Homo sapiens: one gene and its partner. The protein of the gene in region 1 interacts with the protein of each later gene in a biochemical or structural test. Each region holds a gene or a part of one and is shown in the gene's direction. Other genes may lie near its edges. The genes, in order: SHROOM1 and MCAM.

What was found.
Region 2: the proteins of SHROOM1 (region 1) and MCAM form a complex in vitro, tested with the Homo sapiens proteins (one study listed by BioGRID).

Annotation. Positions count from the first base shown.
Region 1 is NC_000005.10:132,827,450-132,843,328, reverse strand, and holds the start of SHROOM1 (protein Shroom1), read left to right. Parts: upstream 1-12,681; 5' UTR 12,682-12,735; exon of another isoform or gene 12,736-15,721; 5' UTR 15,722-15,868; exon of another isoform or gene 15,869-15,879. UniProt on the Homo sapiens protein: May be involved in the assembly of microtubule arrays during cell elongation.
Region 2 is NC_000011.10:119,302,736-119,314,248, reverse strand, and holds the end of MCAM (cell surface glycoprotein MUC18 precursor), read left to right. Parts: intron 1-1,236; exon of another isoform or gene 1,237-1,299; coding exon 1,300-1,479; intron 1,480-1,600; coding exon 1,601-1,722; intron 1,723-1,820; coding exon 1,821-1,983; intron 1,984-2,078; coding exon 2,079-2,197; intron 2,198-2,299; coding exon 2,300-2,441; intron 2,442-2,597; coding exon 2,598-2,719; intron 2,720-2,827; coding exon 2,828-2,969; intron 2,970-3,063; coding exon 3,064-3,159; intron 3,160-3,345; coding exon 3,346-3,493; intron 3,494-3,782; coding exon 3,783-3,900; intron 3,901-4,333; coding exon 4,334-4,363; 3' UTR 4,364-5,720; downstream 5,721-11,513. UniProt on the Homo sapiens protein: Plays a role in cell adhesion, and in cohesion of the endothelial monolayer at intercellular junctions in vascular tissue.

The DNA of each region.
Region 1 (15,879 bases):
ATTTAATAGTCACTTCTCATCCCTTCTTTCTCTGTGGATTTGCCCATTCTGGACATTTCATATACATGGAATAATACGTGGGGTTTTGTCCGTTTTCTTTCACTTAGCATAATGTTCTCGAGGTCCACACGTTGTAGTACATGTCAGCACTTCATTTCTTTTTATGGCTGAATAATATTCCATTGTATAGATATACCAGATTTTATTTATTCATTAATCTGTTGGTGGCCATTTAGGTCGTTTCCACTTTTTGTCTATTATGAATCATGCTGATATAAACATACGTACAGGTTTTGACATGAACATATGTTTTCAGTTCTCTTGGGGATAGACCAAAGAGTGGAATTGCTGGGTCATATGGTAACTTTCTGTTTAATCATTTGGTGAACTAAGAAACAGTTTTCCAAGTCAGTTGTATCATTTTACACTCCCAGCAGCAGTGCGTGAGGTTTCCTTTATATCCTCCTCAATACTTACTATCTGACTTTTTGTCTTATAGCCATTCTAGTGGGTATGAAGTGGTACCTAATTGTGCTTTTGAGTTGAATTTGAGGTTGAGCACCTTTTTTAGTGCTTATTGGCTATTTGTAGATCTTGCGAGAAATTCAAATTCTTCCTGTTCAAATCCTTAGTCTATTTTTAAAAATTGAATTGTTTGTCTTTTTATTTGGTGCATTGTAAGCTATTAAGCATACTAAGGTAAATCTAATTTAGGGAAAGCATTCACTATTTCAGGAAGACCAGAGAGTTGCAGTTTGGCTTTATTATTATTATTATTATTATTATTATTATTATTATTATTGAGACGGAGTTTCACTCTTGTTGCCCAGGCTGGAGTGCAATGGTGAGATCTTGGCTCACTGCAACCTCCGCCTCCTGGTTTCAAGCGATTCTTCTGCCTCAGCCTCCCGAGTAGCTGGGATTATAGGCATGCACCACCATGCCCAGCTAATTTTGTATTTTTAGTAGAGACGGGGTTTCTCCATGTTGGTCAGGCTGGTCTCAAACTCCTGACCTCAGGTGATCCGCCCACCTCGGCCTCCCAAAGTGCTGCGATTATAGGCGTGAGCCACTGTGCCCAGTCTATTTTTAATCCTTTTCAGGCACTTATAAAGTTTTCGAAAAGAACGCTTGTTCACAGAATAATTATAAACAAGGACCTACCACCATCACTAATAAAGGTTATTAATCCAATCCCAAGAACCAAGAAAGAGGATCTAGGCCGGGCACGGTGGGTCATGCCTGTAATCCCAGCACTTTGAGAGGCTGAGGTGGGTGGATCACCTGAGGTCAGGAGTTCGAGACCAACCTGGCCAACATGGTGAAAACCCGTCTCCACTAAAAATACTAAAATCAGCGTGGCGTGGTGGTGCATGCCTGTAATCTCAGCTACTCCGGAAGCTGAGGCGGAAGAATCACTTGAACCCGGGAGGCAAATGTTGCAGTGAGCTGAGATTGCGCCACTGTACTCCAACCTGGGCGACAAGAGTGAAACTCTGCCAAAAAAAAAAAAAAAGAAAAGAATGGGGTCCAAATGAACTCTCTTGAAAGTCCTTGCTTCCATTCATGGCAGCACCTCCCTAGACCTCTCATTGCTGTGCCCAAGTGAGTGACCAAAGCAATCTGCTCTGAAAAGAAAGCAGCTTCTTAGGGTATGGCAAGTCACATCTTTTTGTCAAAACCACCAAGAGGAGAGAGTGATATAGGAAGTGTGGTGACTTGAAGGAAATGACTGGCCCCAGGGTCTAATGTTTTTTTAGAAGTTGGTTCAAGGAGGGTGGATCACTTGAGGTCAGGAGTTTGGGACCAACATGGTGAAACCTTGTCTCTACCAAAAGTACAAAAAATTAGCCGGGCATGGTGACTCATGCCTGTAATCCCAGCCACTTGGAAGCCTGAGGCAGGAGAATCACTTGAATCCAGTAAGCGGAGGTTGCAGTGAGCTGAGATTTCGCCACTGCACTCCAGGCTGGGCAACGGGGCAAGACTCTGTCTCAAAAAAAAAAAAAAAAGTTGGTTCCCAGTGTTACAGCTCTTAGAATTTGTCTAGCAGGCTTTCTGGTTTTTGCCAGAAAGCCCCAAAAAAGTTAAACAAAAAAGTCAGTTCCCCAAGTGAGGGCTGACAATGAGTCTGCTCATGGACAGAGCCATCAGGCCCTGGCTGATGCCAGGGCAGAGAGGGGCTGTCAGCAATGGCTCTTGGTGGAAGGAGTACTGCTGATTTCCTTTCTGGCTCCTAGGACATGTGTTCACTGCCTCTTACCTTAAGTATGGGCCAACTGGTACATGAACACTCAATAATTGCTTGCTAGTTAAATAAGTCCTTTTATTCAATTTAATCACTTCCCTAGGAGGGCCATTTGGTGCCTTAAATGCTGTTTGCATGGACTCTCCCACTCCCATACCCCCCACCAACACACATACGGGGCCTGGAGGCCAAGGCCATTCTTGGCATGTTGCTATCAACTGTGAACTCACAGAATAGAGGAATGACACAGCTGTTCACATGAAGTCAGGTCTCCCACATTCATTTTATTCAACAAACTCTGAGATTACTTCTGAGCCTGGTACTGCCAGGCATAGTCCTTTCCATCAAAGCACTCACTATAGGTCTAGTGAGGCAGACAGACAACTAAATGACCACATACTCTCCAATGCAGTATTATGTAGGGCTGGGAACAACGAACTCTACCTGGGGATATCAAAGAAGGCTTCACTGATGAGGTGATACTTGGCTCAGGGGTCATGTAACTCAGCATCATGATGGGTTCTTATCAGGGACATTTGCTAGTGGGGAAAGGAAGAAAAAAGGAAACTTCAGGACACACCCAGTCCCCTGTTGGGGTAACTATGGGATGGACGCCTATGTCTCCTCCCTGGCCTGACTTCAGCTTAGTCTTTTTGCCTATGCTGTCGAGCAAAGAAAAGGTAGAATCAAGGTCAACCCTCCTTAGTACAGCAAGAGGAAAAAGCAACCAATCTCCACATTTTCTTGCCTTTGTTTTGTTTATCAAGGGAAATCTTGTTCTCATTTTTATGGCAAATGTTTATGACTTTGAACCAGGAACTTGCCTGCCTTGTATTTCTCTTGCACTGCTTTATCCTGTTTCCTGAGTTGCTAGTTTTGAGATTGTGTAAGCGTTGTTAGAGGATTTCCAGCAACATCAAAGGGCAGAGACACTGCCTCCCCTGAACCCTGGGGCAGCTATGGAAATCTCTCTTGCCCTCTTTGCTAGTAGTTGCTTTTCCCAGGGAAAGGGCAGCTCTCAACACCCAAATCTCAACAGGCTGGATTTTCCTCTTGCCTGGCAGTATGAAAAAGGTGTCTTGGCTCCACATTAGAAACTTCTTCGTTTCAAACAATAGCAAGCAGCTCTGCCTGACTCATTCAAAAAAGGAATGTATTGGGAGGAGACCTAGTGGTTCACAGAATTGACTAGAAGGCTGGAGAACCAGGCTGTGAAAATAAACAAGAACAAAGGAGGCTGCGCAGCAAGAGCAGGGGACAGGCCGGGATTGCTACTGTCCTTGCGCCTCCTGACTCGTGATCATTTCTCACCTGTCCCAGTGTCTCTCTTTTACTCACGTAAGAGTCCCAGCTTCTGGAAGAAGCATCAAATTGATTAAGTCCAGGTCTCAGGCCTGTACAGTGACTGGGCTGGCTTTCAAAGCAGGAGGGGGAGTTCTGTCTCCCCAAGACTTACACAATATGAACAAAGTGTTTACAGCCCTGTTTGCCGGAATGGTGAGTGAAGCTTAGGAGAGAAACTACCAGCAGCATGAGCAACACCTATGGGAGACCCCAGGTGGATAAACCAGTCCTTAGAGAGAAAATTGGGACTGGGGTTTAGTTGAGATTGTATTTCTCAGGAGAAACTCAAGTGAGGAATAATGATAACTAACATCACTTATTGGTGGCCCACTGTGAGCCTGGCACTACTCTATGTGATCAAATCTCCTTTAATCTTTATCTGGCAGGTATGTAGTATCCTTGTTTTACACATGAGGAAATGGAGGCTCAGGAAGGTGGGGACATCTCCAGGTTCATAGAGCTACTGGTATTCAAACTGAAGTCACCATACTTTGAAACTCACACTCTTTCCTACTTCACTGATTTTCTATCTCTGGGATACACCAAATTGAAGAACACCTTTCTCTCCCTGTTTCATTTTGAGAAATCAAGGGTGGGCAATGAGCCTGTCTATAAATCTGTCTCTGCCACTCCTAGGCAGTTGCTGTCAGTTGCCCTTTGCCCCATAATTCATTTGGTGTCATCCAGTTAAGAGACACATTCCCCTTTCATCTTGCTAGGTGATTTGCTAGGAAAGTCAAAAGTAACTTGCTATGTTGTTTTTTGTTTTGTCTTTTACTTTTCTTGCTGCTTCCCTTGAAGTAGAAAAAGCTGCTAACTAGGACCTAAGGACCCTGCCAGGGGTAAATGTGACCACAAACACAGTGCCCAGACTGTGATGAATGCTGGGCATACCCCCGGGTTTTAGAACAAAGTGTCCTCTATGTGAGTAACTGACGAGATACACCACAGTTAAAATCAGGAAAGTTTTCTAGGTGAATGTTTAGGGCATGCATTCTCAGTCTCCTGAGCCACCAGCCAAAATTCATCCACATGCACATAGCATGCTGTGACCTAATTCTGTACCAAGTCCATCACGCAGCTTCTGTGTGCAGCCTGGGGTCCAGAGCTCACAAATTGGATTTTTCTTCCATTGAATATTCTGGGTGACTCCTCAGCAAGCAGAAATCTGGGAGGTTTAGCTCAAACAGAATGACAGTTTTAGGAGAGGGGCTTTTTAGAGACTATCTCATCCCATTTTATGATCTGGACACAAGAGAGACAGTCTGGCCATTCCTGGGCCTGAGGAGGCTGTTGCCTTCTCTAAGCAATGCTTTTGGGGCCGAGTTCAGAGCCTGAGATAGTTTCTTTTCTTGAAAACCAAAATGAACCTTAGGGGACCAGAAGAGCAAAGTGGAAAAGCTTATTTGCCCACACCTATCTGTCCGGGGCCCACTGAAGTTGGCAGAGAAGAAGAAGCCTGTATCCATCTTTTTCATGAATCCTCTTTTGTCCAAGGATGTGTGAGTAACATCTGAATGAAGACCACAAGGATGGAATGGTTTCAGGCCTGGGGCTGGGGGCCAGGCTGGAGTAGAAAAGTTAAGTCATTCTGACCAAAGCAAACAGAGGCTGGGTGTCACCCAATGTCTGCAGGGAAAAGGTGACATATGTGTACTTAATGGGGATGTGACAGCCCAGCACTCCTTTCCAGGAAGTGCTGATCTGAAAGGGAATCTGGTTCAATCTCTGGAACAGTCAGCCCTCACCCAGCCTCACCAAGAGGCCCTGCCTGTCAGGTGTCCCCACCGGCGAAGGCAATCTTCATTCTCCCTGCACTTCCTTCTTGTGCACTTTCTACTTTCCTATAAAGCCCTATCTTTAGACAACTGTGGTGAATTCAGTGCATAATCGGAAAGCAAACAAACTTACCCCAGAAGAACATTTACAGTTTAGGTAGACATTTGTGTATAAGCAATAATTCACGCTTTGTTGAATTTCTAAAAATAAACAACATGATTTTGTTGAAAGGTTTCTGACCTCTAATATACTTTAACCAGTACATTACCATCTCTGAATTATTGAGACAGCTATGTAGCCCAGCTATGTAGCTGCTGCCTAAAAGAAAGATATCTGGGCTGGGTGTGGGGGCTCACACCTGTAATCCTAGCACTTTGGGAGGCCGAGGCCGGCGGATCACGAGGTCAGGAGATTTGAGACCGTCCTGGCTAACATGGTGAAACCCCATCTCTACTAAAAATACAAAAAATAAGCCGGGCGTGGTGGCAGGCGCCTGTAGTCCCAGGAGAATGGCGTGGACCCGGGAGGCGGAGCTTGCAGTGAGCCAAGATTGCGCCACTGCACTCCAGCCTGGGCGACAGAGCAAGACTCCATCTCAAAAAAAAAAAAAACAAAACCACATCTGTTGCTTCACCTATGAACTACAGATCCACTGTTAAACCACACACAAAATCAAAGGACACAAACTTGGAAAAATATTTGCCACACATAGGAAAAAGTGTTAATCACCTTAATATATAAAGAGGTTTTTTTTTGTTTTGTTTTTTTGAGACAGGGTCTCACTCTGTCACTCAGGATGGAATGCAGTGGCACAATCATGTCTAACTGCAGCCTCAACCTCCTGGGCTCAGGTGATCCTCCCGCCTCAGCTCCCTGGAGTAGCTGGAACTACATGCATGTGCTACCATGGCCAACTAATGTTTGAATCTTTTGTAGAGACAGGCTGGTCTCCAACTCCTGGGCTCAAGCAATCTGCCCACCTCAGCCTCCCAAAATGCTACTAGGATTATAGGCATGAGCCACTGTGCCCAGCCCTAAAGAGGTCTTACAAATCAATGAGACCAATAATCTAATAGAAAAATGAGCAAAGAAAATTGACAGATCCCAGATCACATACAAATGGCTTTAAAATACACAAAATGGTGTGTAGTCTAATTTATAATATATGCAATATAAATTAAGACAGATATTATTTTTACCTTTCAGATTTCAGAGATCCAAAAGTTTGATAATGCACTAGGCATGGTGGCATGTGCCTGCAGGGGCAGGCTGCTTGCAGGGGACAGGCCCAGGAGCTGTTGGCCACAGCACTCATTCTGCAGAAGGGAAACTTGAGGCCCCAGAGGGCAGGGGTTGGTCCCACAGAGACTGGTGGGCAAAGGGGATCACCCCAAGTCTCAATGGCACTGGGAACACTTACACACTCTGACCTGGACTAAGGCTGCCAGGATGGTCCATGGCACTTTAAAAGCTAAAAAGGCCAAGCACAGTGGTGTGCACCTGTAGTCCCAGCTACTGGGGAGGCGGAGGCAGGAGGATTACTTGAGCCTGGGAGTTCAAATCCAGCCTGGGCAACACAGCAAGACCCCGTCTAAAAAAAGGTTGATAATGCACTGTGTTAGTGAGTGTATTAATGCAATCCCACACTGCTGTAAATAAATACCTGAGACTAGGTAATTAACAAAGAAAAGAGGTTTAATTGGCTCACGGTTCTGCAGGCTGTACAGGAAATGCAGATTCTCACTTCTGAGGAGGCCTCAGGAAACTTACAATCATGGTGGAAGGCAAAGGGGAAGCAGGTACCCTTTACATGGCCAGAGCAGAAGCAAGAGAGGGGGAGGGGTGGGTGCCACATACTTTTAAATGACCAGATCTCATGAGAACTCACTCACTATCATGACCAACAGGGATAGTGCTAAACCATTCATGATGAAACTGCCCCCATGATCCAATTGCCTCCCACTAGGACCCACCTCCAATATTGAGGATTACAACTGAACATGAGATTTGGGTGGGGACACAGATCTAAACCATCTCAGTGTGCTTGTATACATTTTTTATGGGACTGTAAATTGGTATAGCCTCTTTGTAAGTGTGATTTGACAATATCAATCAAAATAGAAAATTCATGTACCCTGTTACAGTTGTCTATTACCATGTAACAAACTACCCCCAAACTTAGTAGTTTGCACTTTTATAATTATTGTGCTCATGTTTTTGAGGGTCAGAAATTCAGGAAGAGCTAGGCTGCGGAATTCTTCTCTGATCAGTATGGTGTCAGCGGGGGTGGCTGACACTGCAGGATTCGCTTCCAAGATGGCCTGGTTACTTGCCTGTGCAATGCCTAAGTGCTCCTTGGCCTCTCTTTTCCCTCTCCACATGCTATCTCATACTCCTGGGCTTCTCCATATAGCTTGTATTTCTCATAGCTTAGTGGTCTCAGAGTAGTAGCACTACCAAGAGGCAAGAAGTGGAAGCTACCAGGCCAGTTAAAGGCTATGTCCAGAACTAGCCCAACATACCTTCTGCTACATTCTGTTGGTCAAAACAGTTACTGTCACCCCTAAGCTCATTATCCAAGGGGATGGAGAAATAGACCTCACCTCTTCTGGGTAGAGTAGTGGCAAAGTCACATTGTAGAAAAGCTTGGGAGGTGGAAAATTTTTTCATGATTGTCTTTGTAAAGTACAATCTACTACCTACACTTTAACCCACCAATTCATCTTTTAGAAATTTATCCTGTAAGTGGACTTACAAATGTGAACAAAAATAAATGAACAAGGGTATTTGTTACTAAAATAGTAATAGCAAAAGACTGGATTAATCTAAATGTCCAATAATAGGGTTATTTAACCCAATTTATTTGTGCCCATGCAATGCATAGCTATGTGCCTGTCTTAAAAAACAAACAAACAAACAAGAAAACCTATGTACTTACTTTGAATAAACTCTAAGATATACTTTCAAATGAAAAAAATAAAGGTGAAGGCTGGGCACGGCGGCTCATGCCTGTAATCCCAGCACTTTGGGAGGCCGAGGTAGGTGGATCACCTGAGGTCGGGGGTTCAGACCAGCCTGGGCAACACGGTGAAACCCCATCTCTACTAAAAATACAAAAATTAGCCAGATGTGGTGGCACACCCCTGTAATTCCAGCTACTTGGAAGGCTGAGACGTGAGACTCACTTGATCCCAGGAGGCGGAAGTTGCAGTGAGCTGAGATCACCCCACTGCACTCCAGCCTGGGTGACAGAGTGAGACTCTTACTCAAAAAAAAAAAAAATTTTGTTTTGGTAGAGACTGGGTCTCACTGCATTGCTCAGTCTGGTCTCGAATTCCTGGCCTCAAGTGATCTTCCCACCTCAGCTTCCCAAAGTGCTTGGATTACAGGTGTGAGCCACTACACCTAGCTCCATCTCTATTGAAAAAAAAAAAAGTACTTACAGAAAGAAATGTTTTTATAAGTCCTTTACAATAAACCCCTGGAAATCATATATGAAACTAAGCCCTCATATGTGTTGGACTGTTGGGGACACACAGAGATGGGGAAGTCCTGTTTGGAGTCTCACTGCTGCTACTGTCTCATCTTTCCCGCTCGCTTGCGAGTTCTGCTCAATCTGAAGTCCAAATCCTGCTCTCCTAGGAAGGCTGCATTGATATCCACAACATACAGTTCTTTACACTGCTCATGTTTACATGACAGCATGGCCTTTGGAACCAGACATTAGGGGGTTAAGTATTGCCTCTACTGCTTATTAGCTACCTGACCTTGACAAAATAATGTCTCTAAGTCCCAGCTTTCTCACTTGTAAAATGGGGTTATACTGATACCTACTTCTGAGGAGTAAGAGGGCTAAAAAGATACATAGAGCACTTAGCACAGTGCTTGGCACTAAAGAAGTGGTCTTTAGTATTCCACTCATAGTCACATCACATTAACCATATCCAACAAAGAGAGTGGGCATCAAAGCAAGAAACCACAGGGACTTGTGAGGTGGGCAGTTGCTTTGCTTTGGTGTCATCAGTTCAGATTACAAGTGCCAAACTATGTGGAGTGGAGGCCCACCACCTCCCCACCTATCAGCTCCTTGATATAGGGCCTGGCCAGGAACAGCAAGGTCTGTGGCTCTAATCCCAGCTAAACACAGCCATCTAAGGGTCTCTTCAAAAGAACTCCCCCAGGCCTGAGAAAGTATTGAGATACTGAAGGGTGCAGACACCTCTCTTTATGTATTGGAAGCATATGTGCATGTTTCCACCCTCTCCATGCACACTCACCCCCCAACCACCATCACTAAGGGAGACTCCAGCTTTGTGGCAGTTTCTTCCCCCTTCTCTTCTCCAAGATTCTCTGTGCTTTTGTAATAATGAGATAGGAAGTATCAGTGCCCCCTAGCCAAAGACCACCACGAGCACACCTGTAGTTGAACAAGTTGGGTTCATTGCTTGTTGAAGTGAGAGAGGACACGTAGCATGGGAAACCACGTGGCATCTCAGGAAGAGAGCATTGGAAAGGACTTAGAGGATCTGGGTTTGGGTTAGTGCTTTTCAAGAGGGTTAAAGAAGCAGAACTTTCCTTTGTGCTGGATGCTGTCAAGAAGCAAGAGTAATTCTATGATTGGGTATATTAATAAATCTTATCTAGAAAGAGGAATGATTAGAGTGAGGCTAAAGCTGCAATTGGTAAAGAAGCAGCAGGTACTCACATTAGCTAGGACAGCAGGCACTCATTAGCTAGGTCATTTTTGTGACTTGGACAATGTTCATGCTTTTGTATGTGTTAGACATGATTAGAGTGCTGTTGTTTTTGTCTTGATCCATCATTGTTAAAGAACGGCCCTGTCTCACATTGATGCCCTGTGAAATGGCTTATGTCCAATGGGACAACAGTAAGGCCTTGCTGTGAATGTCAGGTCAAATTCTGGCAACACCAAGGTCCAGCTGGGCCTTTCAGATGTTAGGGGTTACTTTTCTCTTTCTCAGAACAGAAGAGGTTAAGAGAGACGTGGGTAGGTGGGATTTCAGTTTTCTGGGGACTTAGGCAGAGAGTTGCTTAGTGTGTGCAAGAGGTGAGCGGTAGGTGGGTGGAGTGGGTTAATAAGAATCGCTCTGGACTGCATCCTCATGGTCCCTAGCAGAGAGTTGCTTAGTGTGTGCAAGAGGTGAGTGGTAGGTGGGTGGAGTGGGTTAATAAGAATCGCTCTGGACTGCGTCCTCATGGTCCCTAGCAGAGAGGTGCTGTAGTGTGTGCAAGAGGTGAGTGGTAGGTGGGTGGAGTGGGTTAATAGAATTGTTCTGGACACTGTGTCCCCATAGTTTTCAAGAAATATAAGTAAAAAACATAACCATTTTTTTTTTTTTTGAGACAGAATCTCACTCTGTTGCCCAGGCTGGAATGAAGTAGCGTGATCTCGGCAGACTGCAGCCTATGCCTCCTCGGTTCAAGCGATTCTTGTGCCTAGGCCTTCCAAGTAGCTGGGACTACAGGTGCGTGCCACCACGTCCAGCTATTTTTTTTTGTATTTTTGTAGAGACAGGGCTTCGCCATGTTGCCGAGGCTGGTCTCGAACTCCTGAGCTCAAGCAATCTGCCCACCTTGGCCTCCCAAAGTGCTGGGATTACAGGCATGAGCCACCGCCCCAGCCAACATGAGCAATTAAAAATTTTTTGTTGTTGTTTGCTGGGCTGTCTTTCTTCTATTTTGATGCTGCTGTGAGACTCTGTGGATCAGGGTCTTAAAAATATTAAAAGTCTTTCAGGCCGGGTGCGGTAGCTCATGCCTGTAATCCAGCACTTTGGGAGGCCAAGGTGGGTGGATCACCTGAGGTCACGAGTTTGAGACCAGCCTGGCCAACATGGCGAACCCCGTCTTTACTAAAAATACAAAAATTAGCTGGGCGTGGTGCCCGGTGCCTGTAATCCCAGCTACTTGGGAGGCTGAGGCAGGGAAAATTGCTTGAACCTGGGAGGCGCAGGTTTCAGTGAGCAGAGATCCGGCCACTGCACTCCAGCCTGGGCGACAGAGGGAGACTCTGTCTCAAAAAAGCAAAACAAACAACAAAAGTCTTTCAAAGCCGAAAGGTTCTTAGGCACTGTCTTAAAGCCTAGCGCTCCAGCTGAAGCTGGTGCCTGAGTCCAGATGGTGTTGAAGAAGGAGCAGGGCCCAGCGGGCACCACTCTCAGAAGTCGGGCTCAGGTGTCTCCTGCCTCCGAACCCAAGAAGACCCAAGAAGACAGAGTTCCTCAGGCTCCCAGTGTCCCTAGGAAGTGGCAACCTTGACTCTTGGCCAGAGTTCAGAGTCCTGGTTATTAACACCAATAAACCTTTATTTGCCAGGGATACTACCATGGGAGGACACAGCCCCTGAGCCCAGCCCTGTTGATCCTGTGGGAGCGGGAGGGCAGCGGAGGACAAAGGCAGAGACCTGAGAGCCGGAGAGGCTCATCAAAGGGTCCCCAGCCCCTCTCAGGAACGGAGCATTTCTTGGCAGAGTGGTATTCATAGGACAGAGTTTGGGAAGTCGGGGCAGGGGAGCCTGAGGACACAGCAAGGAGAGCTCAGTGGCAGGTGCAGGCAGAGCGTTCTTTGGAAAATGGAGATCCTGGAAGGTGAGGGCCTCGAGCGCCAGTGTCCAGCCTTAGTGGGTATGCATATGTCCAGCTCCCTAAGGACACACTCAGGACAGCTAAGGTGCACACAAGTCCAGGGGCTTCCCCGTGCTCCGCCCCCCTCTCCCCCACCCCGGTAGCAGGCTGGAGGGCCCAGACCATGCTGGGTAGTGGGAGAAATGGAAAGAAATGGGACAGGGAACAGGAGACAAGAGCCCATGGTGGGAGTCAAAGAGCTGGAAGAGTTTTGGAAATGGGGGTCTGGGGGTAGAGTTGATCAAGGGCCGAGTTACTCAGCGGGACAGGTGGGAGGCACGAGGCCCTGGCAGCTCTGTTTTCTTGGCCGGGCTTGGGGGGGAAAGCGGGTAGCCGTCAGGCGCCTAAGGGCCCGCCCTGGACCTCCCCACCGAGGGAGGTGTCAGGCCCCGAGGGACCCGGCCCCCGAGCATCACGGACGCGCTGGAGGCCGGTGGGCGGTCGCCGTAGTCGCCCTCCCACCACCTCGCTCAGGTTTCTCCGGCCTGGGGCAAGAGGCCTGTGGCCCGCGCGGGAACGCACTGTCCACCCTCAGACCTGGGACTGGGCCGGCGCGCGGACGCTACCAAGAGGCTGCGGCTCCCGCCCCCGCGGCCGGACGTGGCGCCTCCCCTGAGGCCGCGGCCGGAGCCTGGAGGTGGGGTCGGAGTCAGAGCCCGGGGCTCTGATGTCACCGCGCGGCTGCGACGGCCCAGGAGCGCGTCTCGGCGGGAGCCTCAGGTACGCGGCGGGGGCGGGGGAGCGGGAAGCGGGCGGCTGGGTCCGCTTCCCCCGGGAGGCCGGCGGGGCTGCGGGCGGACGGGGGTGAAGAGCGGGCGGCGAGGCGGTGGTCGCGGGGCAGCCCGGGCATCGTTCGGCCGGGACGTGTCTGGCTCGGCGCCGCGTCAGGTTGCGCCAGTGGAGTCGGACCCCAGCGCGCCTCTCCCAGCTGCAGAGCTGCAGGGCGGAGAGGCGGCCCACTCTAAGCTGGCGGCGCGGCTCAGGGGCGCGGCTGGGCGCGCCGCGTGTGGCGCCGGCGGGCAGCGCGGTCTCACTCCGCCACCCTCCGCTCCTGCCCTTTGTCGCCAAGCATCTGGAGAAGCCGGGTCCTTCCCTCCCGGGCTCGCGCTGTCCCCTGCGCGCGATCCTTCCCCGACGGTGAACCCAACGGGAAAGGCCCAGAACTGCGCGGGGCTGCGGCCATCTGCTGTCGAGCCGCTCCGCGTGTCTCTGCCGCCCCCTGCGGCCGCCGGGGCCTGCGCCTCTCTCCCTCCCGTGCCTCGGCTCCCAGAGATTGAACCCCAGGTAACCGGGTCTGTCCACGCCCGCGGCCGCCTCTCCCCGGGTGTCGCCAGCTTCCTGCATTTCCTGTGCATGGCACGGAGCTCGGGTCTCCAGAGACTCTGCATCTGGGGTGCAGCGACCGATGAGCCCGTAAACCAGTCGCACACTCGGAGCGTGGATGCTGCGTGGGGTGCGCTGTCAGCGCGGACAGGCTGGGAGAACGGGGGACGCTGGGGACAGGGAGAGCCGGTGAACTTCCCAGAACGTCCGCCTAGCCAGACCCAGCTGCGGGTACTGGGTTTTGAGACGTGGTCCAGTACCCAGGAACTCAGTCTGACAGGGAGACAGCGCCTACACAGTGAGCCCAGTACTGAGGGAAGACCCGCTGGGAGGGGCGGCCTGGATAGCCCCTCCACAGAGAGGTCAGATGTGAGGTGGCCTTGAGGGAGGTATGATGTAAATCCTGATCATTCGTTGTATTTGAGGCTGTCCGTTCTCCTGTGCCTCCTCGGTCGCCTTACTTGGATCTGTTCCCATTGCCTTGGTGTGATTTTATCCACCGGAAACTGTCTTCAGCTATTTCCCCAGTAACCTCTAACTAAAAACCTGGGTCTTGCCTGGTCTACCCTCCCCTGCTGAACTCCAGAGCCACATCCCAACTGCTGCCTGACTTGTCACAGACACCATGAAGCCCAGACTGAAGGAGCACTGGCCCCCTTGACAATTCCTCAGCCCCAGCTCCTCCTTTCAGACTGGTGCCTCCACCTGCCAGACCCCTAGCTTTGAAGGCCAATCTCATCTTCGTCTCCTTCCTCTCTGGCTCCTTCATTCAGGTGACAAGTATACATCAAATGCCCACCCCAACTCCCCCTCCCAGGACTCCAATCTGGTGTCTTTCTAGCGGGGAGTCTAGGTTGCTCCCTCTGCTCTGGAGAGGCTTGGCAAAATGCCTGCAGAGCTCCTTGAGCTCCACCTCTGAACTCCCTTTCAGCAGCCGGCACAGGCATAACAGCCCAGCCCACAGGTACCACTGCCACTGAGGCAGGGACCCCTAAGGTAGGGCTACCCCCAGCCACAGGGGCTGGCTGGACTGCAAGAGGCTCCCTGCAGCCAGACAAGTATGAAAATGCCTTGTTGTTTTGTGCTGAGGCCCCCCAAAACACACCAAAGCAGCTGGGCCCTCTTGGCATGGTAGGTTCTGCAAAGCACCCACTGTGAGGAGCCTGCGTGAACATCAACCTGATAGGGCCACCAGTGCAAAAGCATCTTCAACAAGTTACAGTCAATAAGGAAACACATGTGTAGACACATTTTTATTGCCCATTCAAGCTGTTTTTATTTGCTGAATTCAGAATCCTTTAACATAGTAACTCACAAATAAGATAGATTTTCATAGATTTTCAAGACCTCTTTTGAGGAAACATCTTGTGTTTGGTGATCCCCATCTGTAGCTGCAGCAAGCCAAAATGGGCAGGATGGGTGACATGAGCTAGTGCTCCCAAGCTGGACTCAGAAAGAGTAGGAAGAGAAAGGGCTAATGTCTGAGCAGTCGGGTGGGCTTCCTAGATGAGGGGACTGTCCTCCCAGGAGCTGCTACTCAGAGTAGTTTCTTGTCCTCCTAAAGTTTAGAGTGGAAATACTTTGCAAAAGAGGTCCCCAACCCTAAGTGTGAGGGCTAAGCTCCTGGGCTTAGTAGGCATATACAAATGCCCCCAGGTGGGTGACATCAAGATGTTCTGGTCCTAGGTCTGCTGAGAGCCTCTCCTGGGAATGTTGTAGGTACTGCCTTTCCCTTTTAGGAAACACCATATCCTCCTACCACTAACCCCCATCCTTGCCCTAACCAGCAATCTGTAACATCCTGGGCCTCAGGGACGTGGGTGGAGGGTGACTCTGAGCTCCAGATAGTGTCTAGGAGGCTCAAATAAGCCTGCTTTTTGGTCCTCACCCTAGCCGTGGGCCACCCTACTCTGCACTCCCTACCAAGCAGCTCAGAGAATGGAGGCCAGCGCCCAAAAGTCTCCATAGTTCATAGGGAGCCCCAAACCTCAACACTGCCCTTTCCCAAGCCTCAAAATTTCTCTTACCCTGACCCAGGCACACCCACTCAACTCTTACCCTTGATCCCCCTCCCAGGACCAGAAGGGATTGATTTCTGGTGAGTCCTGCCCCAAGCTGTGCTTGCCTGCTCTGTTCGTACCTAATATTGCATGAGGAACCTGGCCAGTGTCTATGGTGGCAAGTGCTTCACCCATTCTGTCCTCTTCCCCAGAAAAGACTAATAGGGAGGGAAGAAGCGTGCGCAGAAGCTAAGGAACTCTCTTCCTTCTCTACCAAGGCCACCCCTACATCTACTCCCTGCAAATCTGTTATTTCCCTTGACATTCAGCAAATATTTGGGGTTTTGTTTTGTTTTGTTTTGTTTTGTTTTGTTTTGAGACAGAGCCTCACTTTGTCGCCAGGCTGGAGTGCAGTGGCGCGATCTCGGCTCACTACAACTTCCGCCTCCCGGGTTCAAGCGATTCTTCTGCCTCAGCCTCCCGAGTAGCTGGGACTACAGGCGTGTGCCACCACGCCCAGCTAATTTTTGGTATTTTTAGT
Region 2 (11,513 bases), on another chromosome or scaffold:
AGGAAATGAAGGCTGCAGTGAGCTAGGATTGCACCACCACACTCCGGCCTGGGTGACAGAGCGAGACCCCATCTCTTAAAAAGAGCTGTCCCTATGGTACTACACAGGAACTGCCTTATATTTTCATTAAGCTTTTAACTTAAAAAAATTATACAAATGGTACTTGAAAATATTTTCATGAGAATTTAAACTGACAAAAAATCTAGAAGTTTCTTCTTGCCTGAGACCCCCCCTCCCAGAAATAATCTCTGCTATCAGGGTGTGTTCTTTCAAGCCTATTTCTATGTATTTGCTCATATATAGAAATATTTCTAGAATGATATAGGCTTCTGTGTTTTATTATCTAAATCAGTCATTCTTAACCAGGGGTGATTTTGTACCCCCTCCTCCTAGGAGATACTTGGCAATGTCTGGAGATATTTTTGGTTGTCACACATAGAGGGGGTGCTACTGCCATCTAGTAGGTAGAGAGACCAAGGATGTTGCTAACATCCTATAGGGCACAGGACAGCCCCCACAATAAAGAATCAACGTGGCCTAAAACATCAGTAGTGCTGGCTGGGCTCACGCCTGTAATCCCAGCACTTTTGGAGGCCAAGGTGGGCGGATCACCTGAGGTCGGGAGTTCAAGACCAGCCTGTCCAACACGGAGAAACCCCATCTCTACTGAAAATACAAAAGTAGCCGGGCGTGGTGGCGCATGTCTGTAATCCCAGCTACTCAGGAGGCTGAGGCAGGAGAATCACTTGAAGCCGGGAGGGAGGTGGAGGTTGCGGTGAGCCGAGATTGTACCACTGCACTCCAGCCTGGGCAACAAGAGTGAAACTCTGTCTGAAAAAAAAAAAAAAAAAATTATCAGTAGTGCTGAGAAACCCTGGTCTAAGTGGTGGTGTATGGTATACATTGTTAGACAATTTCTTTTATACAATGTTTCTGGGTCAGTCTATTTAGATCAACTGATCGTTTTGCTTACTGCCAAGTTTTCCATACTACGCATAGCAGGTAGTCGAGTTCACCATTCCCCATTTAGTGGACATCTAGACGGCTGCTCGTTTTTATCATTGCAGCATTCTTTGCACACATCCTTGGATATGAGCAGACATGAAAATGTTTTTCTAGGGTTGACACTGAGCAGTAAAAGTGCTGGGTTGAAGGGTTTCCAGCTTGCATTTGTACCTGGCCTTCTACAGGGGACAGGGGGCTATTTAGATGGTCCCCTGCCAACCCCAGTGGACAACCCTAGGGTGGGGCTGGAGGTGGGGCTGAGGCTGAGTCTTCCTCCCCTTCCTCCCTGCCCAGGGGTCCACATTCAGTCGTCCCAGACTGTGGAGTCGAGTGGTTTGTACACCTTGCAGAGTATTCTGAAGGCACAGCTGGTTAAAGAAGACAAAGATGCCCAGTTTTACTGTGAGCTCAACTACCGGCTGCCCAGTGGGAACCACATGAAGGAGTCCAGGGAAGTCACCGTCCCTGTTTTCTGTGAGTACTAACCTGACTCTCTGCTTACTGGGGCTGGGGCTGCTGGAAACTCCTGCTGGCTCCCCCTTATCCAGCCCAGGGTTGACTCATGGGCCAAGAGCTACCCCCTTTGCCTATGCAGACCCGACAGAAAAAGTGTGGCTGGAAGTGGAGCCCGTGGGAATGCTGAAGGAAGGGGACCGCGTGGAAATCAGGTGTTTGGCTGATGGCAACCCTCCACCACACTTCAGCATCAGCAAGCAGGTGTGGGGGCTTTGTGCTGGGTGCAGGTGGGGATGCAAGCAGAGACCCAGGTGGAGTGGCGGGAGGTGCACTCTGCTCACCTCCCCAATCCTCCCTAGAACCCCAGCACCAGGGAGGCAGAGGAAGAGACAACCAACGACAACGGGGTCCTGGTGCTGGAGCCTGCCCGGAAGGAACACAGTGGGCGCTATGAATGTCAGGGCCTGGACTTGGACACCATGATATCGCTGCTGAGTGAACCACAGGAACTACTGGTGAACTGTGAGGGGCTGGGGACCCAGGACAGGGGGACCAGGCTGGGGCAATAGGGAACTGGCCCCACCCTGCCCTGGGTGACATGATTGCTGTACCCCCAGATGTGTCTGACGTCCGAGTGAGTCCCGCAGCCCCTGAGAGACAGGAAGGCAGCAGCCTCACCCTGACCTGTGAGGCAGAGAGTAGCCAGGACCTCGAGTTCCAGTGGCTGAGAGAAGAGGTACCCAGGCGGGTCTGGGGCAAGGGGCTGATGGGGTGGGTGGGGCTGGCGGTGACAAGAATGTGCTCTTTCCCAGACCCTCTGACCCATCTCTCATCCCAGACAGGCCAGGTGCTGGAAAGGGGGCCTGTGCTTCAGTTGCATGACCTGAAACGGGAGGCAGGAGGCGGCTATCGCTGCGTGGCGTCTGTGCCCAGCATACCCGGCCTGAACCGCACACAGCTGGTCAACGTGGCCATTTTTGGTGAGGCCCTCCCTCTGGGTAGAGACCAGGTCACCCCAAGTGGGGTGGTTTTTAAGCTCTTTGACAAAAAGCCACCTGCTGCCCTGGGGAGCTCTGGTGCGGAGGGGGAGGCAGGCTAGCTGGGCTTGCCACCTCACCTCTCCCTACCTCCCCAAGGCCCCCCTTGGATGGCATTCAAGGAGAGGAAGGTGTGGGTGAAAGAGAATATGGTGTTGAATCTGTCTTGTGAAGCGTCAGGGCACCCCCGGCCCACCATCTCCTGGAACGTCAACGGCACGGTGAGCGGGTGTCTCATCTGCCACACTCTCCTAATCCCTGCCTGCGCTTTGTGGCCAGGACCAGAGATCCTCCCCATCCCCTGAGCTGCCTCCTTCCTTTCCTCGCAGGCAAGTGAACAAGACCAAGATCCACAGCGAGTCCTGAGCACCCTGAATGTCCTCGTGACCCCGGAGCTGTTGGAGACAGGTGTTGAATGCACGGCCTCCAACGACCTGGGCAAAAACACCAGCATCCTCTTCCTGGAGCTGGGTGAGGGCTGCATCCCTGCAGGGGATGGCAGGGGCAGGCCCAGGCACGGGCAGTAACTTGCGCTTCTCCTAACACCCCTCCCTCTGCCTCCTAGTCAATTTAACCACCCTCACACCAGACTCCAACACAACCACTGGCCTCAGCACTTCCACTGCCAGTCCTCATACCAGAGCCAACAGCACCTCCACAGGTAAGCCAGGCCTGGCAAGAGAACAGGGCTGTGCCAGGGCATCCTTTCTGCCCTGTCCCTCCCCAGAGAGCCCTGTCCAGAAAGGTGAGTAGCAGCCCCATCTTGTCGGCCCTGGACTGGCTGGGCCAACGATGGTGACGAAGTGGCCTGGGGCAGGGAGTGACGAGGAGTGTCTTTGTGGCGCAGAGAGAAAGCTGCCGGAGCCGGAGAGCCGGGGCGTGGTCATCGTGGCTGTGATTGTGTGCATCCTGGTCCTGGCGGTGCTGGGCGCTGTCCTCTATTTCCTCTATAAGAAGGGCAAGCTGCCGTGCAGGCGCTCAGGGAAGCAGGAGATGTAAGCCCAACACCGGCCCCTCCGCCCCCGCCCGTTTTGCCACCCAGCCTGCTGCCTGCCCAGCGCCCGCCTGCCCCTTGACAGCAGGAGTGGGGCCCTGGGTCAGGGTGCTGCCTGCTCCACTACCCACTGCCCAGCTTCCATCAGCCACATGGTCTCATGACCTGCTTCCCTGCCCTGGGCTGGCCCTGGAGCAAGGAGCCCTCATCCATTCCACATCCTTCACAGCGGGCCCTTCTCTTCCTGTGGCCCTGAGATACCAACCTCTCACCTCCCTCCCTCCTCCCAGCACGCTACCCCCGTCTCGTAAGAGCGAACTTGTAGTTGAAGTTAAGTCAGATAAGCTCCCAGAAGAGATGGGCCTCCTGCAGGGCAGCAGCGGTGACAAGAGGGCTCCGGGAGACCAGGTAGGAGGCGGTTCCTGTGGCCAGAGCCTGCCACATCCTCAGGGACCGGGGGCAGTAGGGACTAACGGTTCTCTCTATCCTTCATCCCTCTTTGTCAGAGATAGGGAGCAGGCCCCATCTTGCCTTCTTAACACTACTCACAGATGGCAGGGCCAAGCAAGTGGCTGAGGGAGCTTGGAGGAAGACTGAGAAAGACCCTGTCCCATCACCTTTTCCTGACCAATGCCCGTGGCTCTGGGTGTGGCCATTTCACCAGTGCAGTCAGACGGGGGCCGCCCTCCTTCCCTGGCCTGCCATGCCCATCCTAGCTTCCTCCCCAACGCTGCCCACCAAATTCATCGGCTTCTGCTTCCATCTCTCCTTCCTCTCGGTGCTCACACCTTCAACTCAGCACCGTCTCCGTGTTCCCCTCTTCTCCTCTACCCACTTTTAGGGAGAGAAATACATCGATCTGAGGCATTAGCCCCGAATCACTTCAGCTCCCTTCCCTGCCTGGACCATTCCCAGCTCCCTGCTCACTCTTCTCTCAGCCAAAGCCTCCAAAGGGACTAGAGAGAAGCCTCCTGCTCCCCTCGCCTGCACACCCCCTTTCAGAGGGCCACTGGGTTAGGACCTGAGGACCTCACTTGGCCCTGCAAGGCCCGCTTTTCAGGGACCAGTCCACCACCATCTCCTCCACGTTGAGTGAAGCTCATCCCAAGCAAGGAGCCCCAGTCTCCCGAGCGGGTAGGAGAGTTTCTTGCAGAACGTGTTTTTTCTTTACACACATTATGGCTGTAAATACCTGGCTCCTGCCAGCAGCTGAGCTGGGTAGCCTCTCTGAGCTGGTTTCCTGCCCCAAAGGCTGGCTTCCACCATCCAGGTGCACCACTGAAGTGAGGACACACCGGAGCCAGGCGCCTGCTCATGTTGAAGTGCGCTGTTCACACCCGCTCCGGAGAGCACCCCAGCAGCATCCAGAAGCAGCTGCAGTGTTGCTGCCACCACCCTCCTGTCTGCCTCTTCAAAGTCTCCTGTGACATTTTTTCTTTGGTCAGAAGCCAGGAACTGGTGTCATTCCTTAAAAGATACGTGCCGGGGCCAGGTGTGGTGGCTCACGCCTGTAATCCCAGCACTTTGGGAGGCCGAGGCGGGCGGATCACAAAGTCAGGACGAGACCATCCTGGCTAACACGGTGAAACCCTGTCTCTACTAAAAATACAAAAAAAAATTAGCTAGGCGTAGTGGTTGGCACCTATAGTCCCAGCTACTCGGAAGGCTGAAGCAGGAGAATGGTATGAATCCAGGAGGTGGAGCTTGCAGTGAGCCGAGACCGTGCCACTGCACTCCAGCCTGGGCAACACAGCGAGACTCCGTCTCGAGGAAAAAAAAAGAAAAGATACGTGCCTGCGGTGAGGAAGCTGGGCGCTGTTTTCGAGTTCAGGTGAATTAGCCTCAATCCCCCGTGTTCACTTGGCTCCCATAGCCCTCTTGATGGATCACGTAAAACTGAAAGGCAGCGGGGAGCAGACAAAGATGAGGTCTACACTGTCCTTCATGGGGATTAAAGCTATGGTTATATTAGCACCAAACTTCTACAAACCAAGCTCAGGGCCCCAACCCTAGAAGGGCCCAAATGAGAGAATGGTACTTAGGGATGGAAAACGGGCCTGGCTAGAGCTTCGGGTGTGTGTGTCTGTCTGTGTGTATGCATACATATGTGTGTATATATGGTTTTGTCAGGTGTGTAAATTTGCAAATTGTTTCCTTTATATATGTATGTATATATATATATGAAAATATATATATATATGAAAAATAAAGCTTAATTGTCCCAGAAATCATACATTGCTTTTTATTCATCATGGGTACCACAGGAACCTGGGGGCCTGTGAAACTACAACCAAAAGGCACACAAAACCGTTTCCAGTTGGCAGCAGAGATCAGGGGTTACCTCTGCTTCTGAGCAAATGGCTCAAGTTCTACCAGAGCAGACAGTCACCCTACTTTTCAGCAGCAAAACTGCCCTGATGACGCAGCACGAAGGGCCTGGCAGGCTGTTAGCAGGAGCTATGTCCCCTTCCTATGCTTTCCTGCCACTTGGAACTGCCCTCCAGACAGCAGCTCAGGCTCACCGCCATGAGGAAGGGGGCCTTGGCATTTGGTCCTACGGCAACTCGAGTATTGCCTCCCAACCCCCTGAATGAGCAAGAACTCAAGTCTGCTACAACAAAAGAAACTTTATTTAAAAATATTTTTTTACAGACATGGGTGCTTGAAAAAGCTCTTTAGTTAACTAACTGTGTATGGAAATGAAAAAAAATTAATAAATAACATTAGTAAAACAGACTTCTAAACATTAATACACTGGCAAAATAAAATGGACTTAAAATGAAAATGAATCTTAAAGCTCTGCTATTCTCTGTAAGAATATTTACCTTCTGTTTTTCTTATTCTTTACAGGTGAGAATGATTAAATACTGCTAATATAAATTTTTTATATTAATGACACATTTTTAAAATAGTCCACGAAAATCTCACCTATGTGTTTGTTTTGTTTTCTTCTTAACACTGATATACAAATTGGGACTCTTCATTCTGGAGAAAGCATCAGGTTCTCTCCAGCACTCCCAGGCTAAGAATTTCAAAATCTTGAATAAGGAGGACTTTAAAATTTCTGTCTCCCAATTCTTTATTAGTTAAAGGCAGGGGAAAACTGAGGAAAGGGTAAAAGATAAGTAAGATGTCATTATATAGAAAAACTTTTGCTAAAGCTCACTATAGTCACATTACTGAGGACAGGCTTCTGGTCCCATGTTCCTTGCTGCCCTTCCCTGGGGAAACCAGGCCCTGCAGAGGGCACTAGCTGCTTAATGCTTTAAGTCTGAAGCCTTCAAATGAAAGGCCAGCCACATCTGATGGGGGCTGGGGGGTGGGGGCAGGAGGTCTAGACCAGTTCAGGATCCAGCAAAAAGAAAAGACAAAGCCACCAACCTCCCCTTCTCAGGAGAGTCCATCCTATACTCCTCGACACAACTAGGTAATTAATGTCATCAGAAGGCTAGGACACTTGGAATGGTCCAGAGTTTACCTGGGAATTGTGAAACATTCTGTCTTTTGCAGGAGACAAGGCATGCAACCTGATAACTAAGCTTGTGATTGGAACCAACCAAATGATCCCAGGGTACAATGCTTCTCTCCTCCACTGAAGTCTCACAGCAGGGGAAAGGGACTCCAGACACACTGCACCTGCATGTCACCTCTCCAGTCACAGAGAGCATTCTTTCCTGTCTCCTAGACACTAAGGACTAATGAAACTCAAGGTAGAGGAGCTCAGACTCTGGTATTTCCATATTAAGTCCTAAAATGCAGCCTGGGATACAGTGCTGCCTTAGAAAGGCACAAAACATTTGGCTTTTTTTTTTTTTCAGTGTGCTAAAAATTGTTTTGTTTTGAGTAAAGGAAAAAGATATATAAGGTTAAAAATCCCAAGTCACCACAGCCAGAAAACAGACGTAGGAGGTGCCTCATAGCTGCCATGCCCCTACCACATGTGTCAGCAGGAAGTCAGGCTTTTCTTTCAAGGCCAAGACACTAGAACAGTGCTGAGCAGGGTAGGTCAGGAGGCATTTACTCTCATGGGCATTGCGTTGCAGGCTCACTCACCCAGACAGCAGGAGAAACAGGCCATGGAAGACAACACGTGGTCTACAGACTCATAAGTAGTTCTCTGCCTCTCCAGTTTTAAGATGGCCATAAGCATGGCCACCCTCACCCACAAGAAGGTCAGAGGTAGGTAGAGAGGAGGGAGCTGACACACAGGCACCCAGGACACCCTGCTTCAGGGCTCAGCATGGAGGTGGCACAAGGCCTGAGGAGTTGCACATAGCACGCATTGAGCAATACTCCTCTCTGGCCTCCTGTCTGATTTAGGGGCAGAAGGAGAATGTAGGAGAGGCAATGTTGGTGGGGAGGGGGCGGGGCCTGACATTCATTTTTGGGACTGAATCAGGCAATCAGGACTCTGCTGATTTCTTCAGCTGCCAAATCAGGAGATCTGAGGTTGGCTTTTGGGCTTTGCTCTGTACAAACACAGGGAGTGGTCGGCTGCATTTTTCTCAAGCTCTGTACCCAGGAAGGGGCGGCAAGAGCACCACACAGCTTAGTCTGTCTGTCAACAGCCGGCCCTTCCACCCGTGCTCCCCACCTGACTCGCCATGGACATGCGGGGCTTGCTCTCCCCATCCCTATTTCCCCATCTCCTACTCTTTTGCTACTTTCCAGAACCAAGAAATACTGGTATTTCCCACTGGAACCAACCCAGATTTCCTGGGACACAGTGAAGGCACATGGCACTGCTGTCCCTCTGCTGCTTAACTCAGGAGCCTAGTCTACAACATCAAAGGCAAAGTCTGATGACCCACCCTTCCTCCCTTGATGGACATCTTTGGATTATTAGGTAACTTCTGTGTGTATCAAATGACTCTAGTAGTTTAAAAAACTTTTAAGTAAGGCAGTATGAAATACCTTACAACTCAGGACAGGCTCTGAGATGAGAGAAATATAAGATCAAAAGATTTAGGCAAGCAAAAGCATAGTTTTAAAAAAAAACAGAAAAGGAAAGCTTTTATATAGGACTAAAATGAAAGCAATTGCCAGAGAAGACACAGGTATACTGTCTAAAGAGCTCTCGGTAAAAACTCTATCCTAAACTGGAATCTATATTTAATTTCTATCCTGGCAACTGCTCCAATATTATATATTCTTACTGGCTCTGGCAAAGTAGTTTCTGAGGTGCCTAGGAAGGCTTGCCTGAGAACATTACTGCAGAGCGGCCCTCACACAGGAAGGAGCGAGAGGGTGAGGAGGAGAGTGGAGGAGACAGGCCACAAGCCCAGAGAATGAACATTTTCAAGCACTCAAACCTGAAGAGGACCCAGAAGTCCATGGATAGTGGCTACAGTGGAACCCGTTATTAGATTCTGCTCTCTAAATAAACACGGAAGAAGGCAAAAGACCTGAGGCTGAATGGAGGCTAAGGAAGGCTACCCAGGAACAGGCTAGCTCTGGAACAGGACAGGCTGGCCCACAAGAGGGAGGGAAGAAATCTTGGATGCGAAGACTGACAAAGGGAAGAAAAACAGGAAATAAAGAAGACAATGACCAGAATTAAGTTAAACCTAAGAATTTCTATGATGTCCCAGACAAACTCCTGTGCCTTCCTGTCCACTAAGCAAAAAGGCAGGAGTAGTGGCTTTACTTCTTGAGTAGAAGCCTTTTTAGGGTGTCTGTGGAGTCTCTGCTCACTTCTCTGAGAAGCTCCCTGTCTCCAGCTGAAGGAGCCTGCCACATCTCTGCTCTCCCTGGCAAGGCCAACTGCTCAGAGATAGATACTTGATCAATGTGCTGGGCTGAGTGTAGTTTTTTTTAAGAATACGAAGTATGGGCCGGGCGCGGTGGCTCACGCCTGTAATCTTAGCACTTTGGGAGGCCGAGGTGGGTGGATCATGAGGGTCAGGAGTTCAAGACCAGCCTAGCCAAGACGGTGAAACCCTGTCTCTACTAAAAATATGAACATTAGCTGGGCATGGTGGCAGGCGCCTGTAATCCCAGCTACTCGGGAGGTTGAGGCAGAGAACTGCTTGAACCTGGGAGGCAGAGGTTGTGGTGAGTTGAGACTGCACCACTGCACTCCAGCCTGGGCGACACAGCGAGACTCCATCTCAAAAAAAAAAAAAATTAAGTATGGGAAATTGAGAATTTGTTCATGGTGATCCCCAGAGTTGGAAGGTGGTGTAGACTTGAGGACTAGAGTGCCTATTTGGGGGCCACATATACCATAAGCAGACTGTGAAGCGGGAGAAAGGACTAGGTGCAAAGCTCTGCAGTTCCAGCTCCACCCAAGAACCAAAGGCACTTCCCGTCCTGGGTTCTGCGAAATACCCTGCATCCTTACCACAACTCCACTCCCTCCTTTATTCCGCTTGAACATTTCTGTTTCTTGGATCCAAAGAATCCCTAAGCAGTCAAAAATATAACCTTGACCGTCCTTCACTATCCACCACCCTCTAGGCATTAAGCCGTTCTATGTATTTCCAACAAAACACTGCTCATGGAGACTGAGTTCAAAGGAGTGATAGTAATAGTTTATGCTGAGTTACAGTATTTTAGATTGAGCTTCTAAAGCTCTAAGGTCTGGTAGAATGATGTGTGGACACTAAGCTTTAGAATCCCTAAACTCCTTGCTCTGGGAGGGAGGTAAAGGCTGACAATTAGGGGACTGATGGAGTTCAATCTGTATTAATGTCTGGCTCTTGGAAGACCCAACAACTGACTAAAGGATCTTTGGGTCCTGAGACCCGAAGACAGGGCCCACACCTCCAGCCCTTCTAAAACATAGTTAGCCACAACGGTTGTTGAAAGACTGGAAAACCAATTCCAAATAGTACAGGACATGGTGACAGGTCCCATAAGGGTGATACGAAAATCCTCCCAACAAGGGGGATTAGGGACGTAGCAGCTCAGGAAAAAGTTCAAGGAAGGCACTAGATTGGAAAGGGGAGTGTGGGCAGATGCTTTGCTTAAACATTTAATGCCCTACTGTGCAACTCTGAGCCAACTTACCTTTCAACTCACCAAACAGATTCTAATTATGTTGGAACAAATTCCAACATAAAAACAGTCGGTATCCATGACACTTACACCAAGGAATCTCCCAGGCATTATCAAAGCTACAGGAGACAACAGGGGATAATGGGAGAATCTTGGCCTGTTATTAACCAGGATAGCTCTATGAGGAAAGGTAAGTCTACATGGAAGAGCTGTGAATAAAAATTGCACAATCTTACTGGGAAGAGCTATTTTAAGGTCAAACGCAGAGGCTATGACAGTCCAAGTACAATCCCCCAAACATTAGTAAACTACTATGTGGCGCCAAGGGAAGGACACATACCTGACATTTCTGGCACATGGTCATCACTCATAAACATTTGCTGGATGAACAAACAAACTGTTAGAGCCAGACCAATAGTCAGAAAACTATTTTTCAATGAACAGTGGTCATTCCAGAGTCAGAAAGGCCAACGGCAAGAAGAGGGACTTATAGTTTGAGAAGGTCTATAATCTTCTGACTTTAATGACGTGAGGTAGGAGAATATTCTGCTTTATCACCATTGCTGAACACCTACAAAAAGAACTAGATCTTAAAGGGAATATATAGATGGTCCCTAGTTTTTACAAGGAAATTTTGTTATAAAAATTTGTGAGTTGACTGTTTGGGACCATAAACACATTTTACTTTTCTATAGAGAAAACACATATTTTAAGAGTGATGAACAGTGACCCCCACCTCCCTTAACCAGAAATCTTTTAAATCTACAAAATAGTTAAATAATACTAACAGTAGTATCCCACATCTTGGGCCCCAGTAATGAGGGTCTGTATAAGAAGAGAAAGAGAGGAGAAGAATGGTAGATTATGCAGAATGGGGCTGGGGGGAGACGAGCAAGTGGAAGAGAACGGCCACCCACAGGTAGAGAGCACTATTCACAAAAATATTAACAGGTAAATGCTGAGATGAGAAGCTGCCTGGTCTATTACTTAACTAAAGGGAGGTATATGAAGAGCCCACAGGT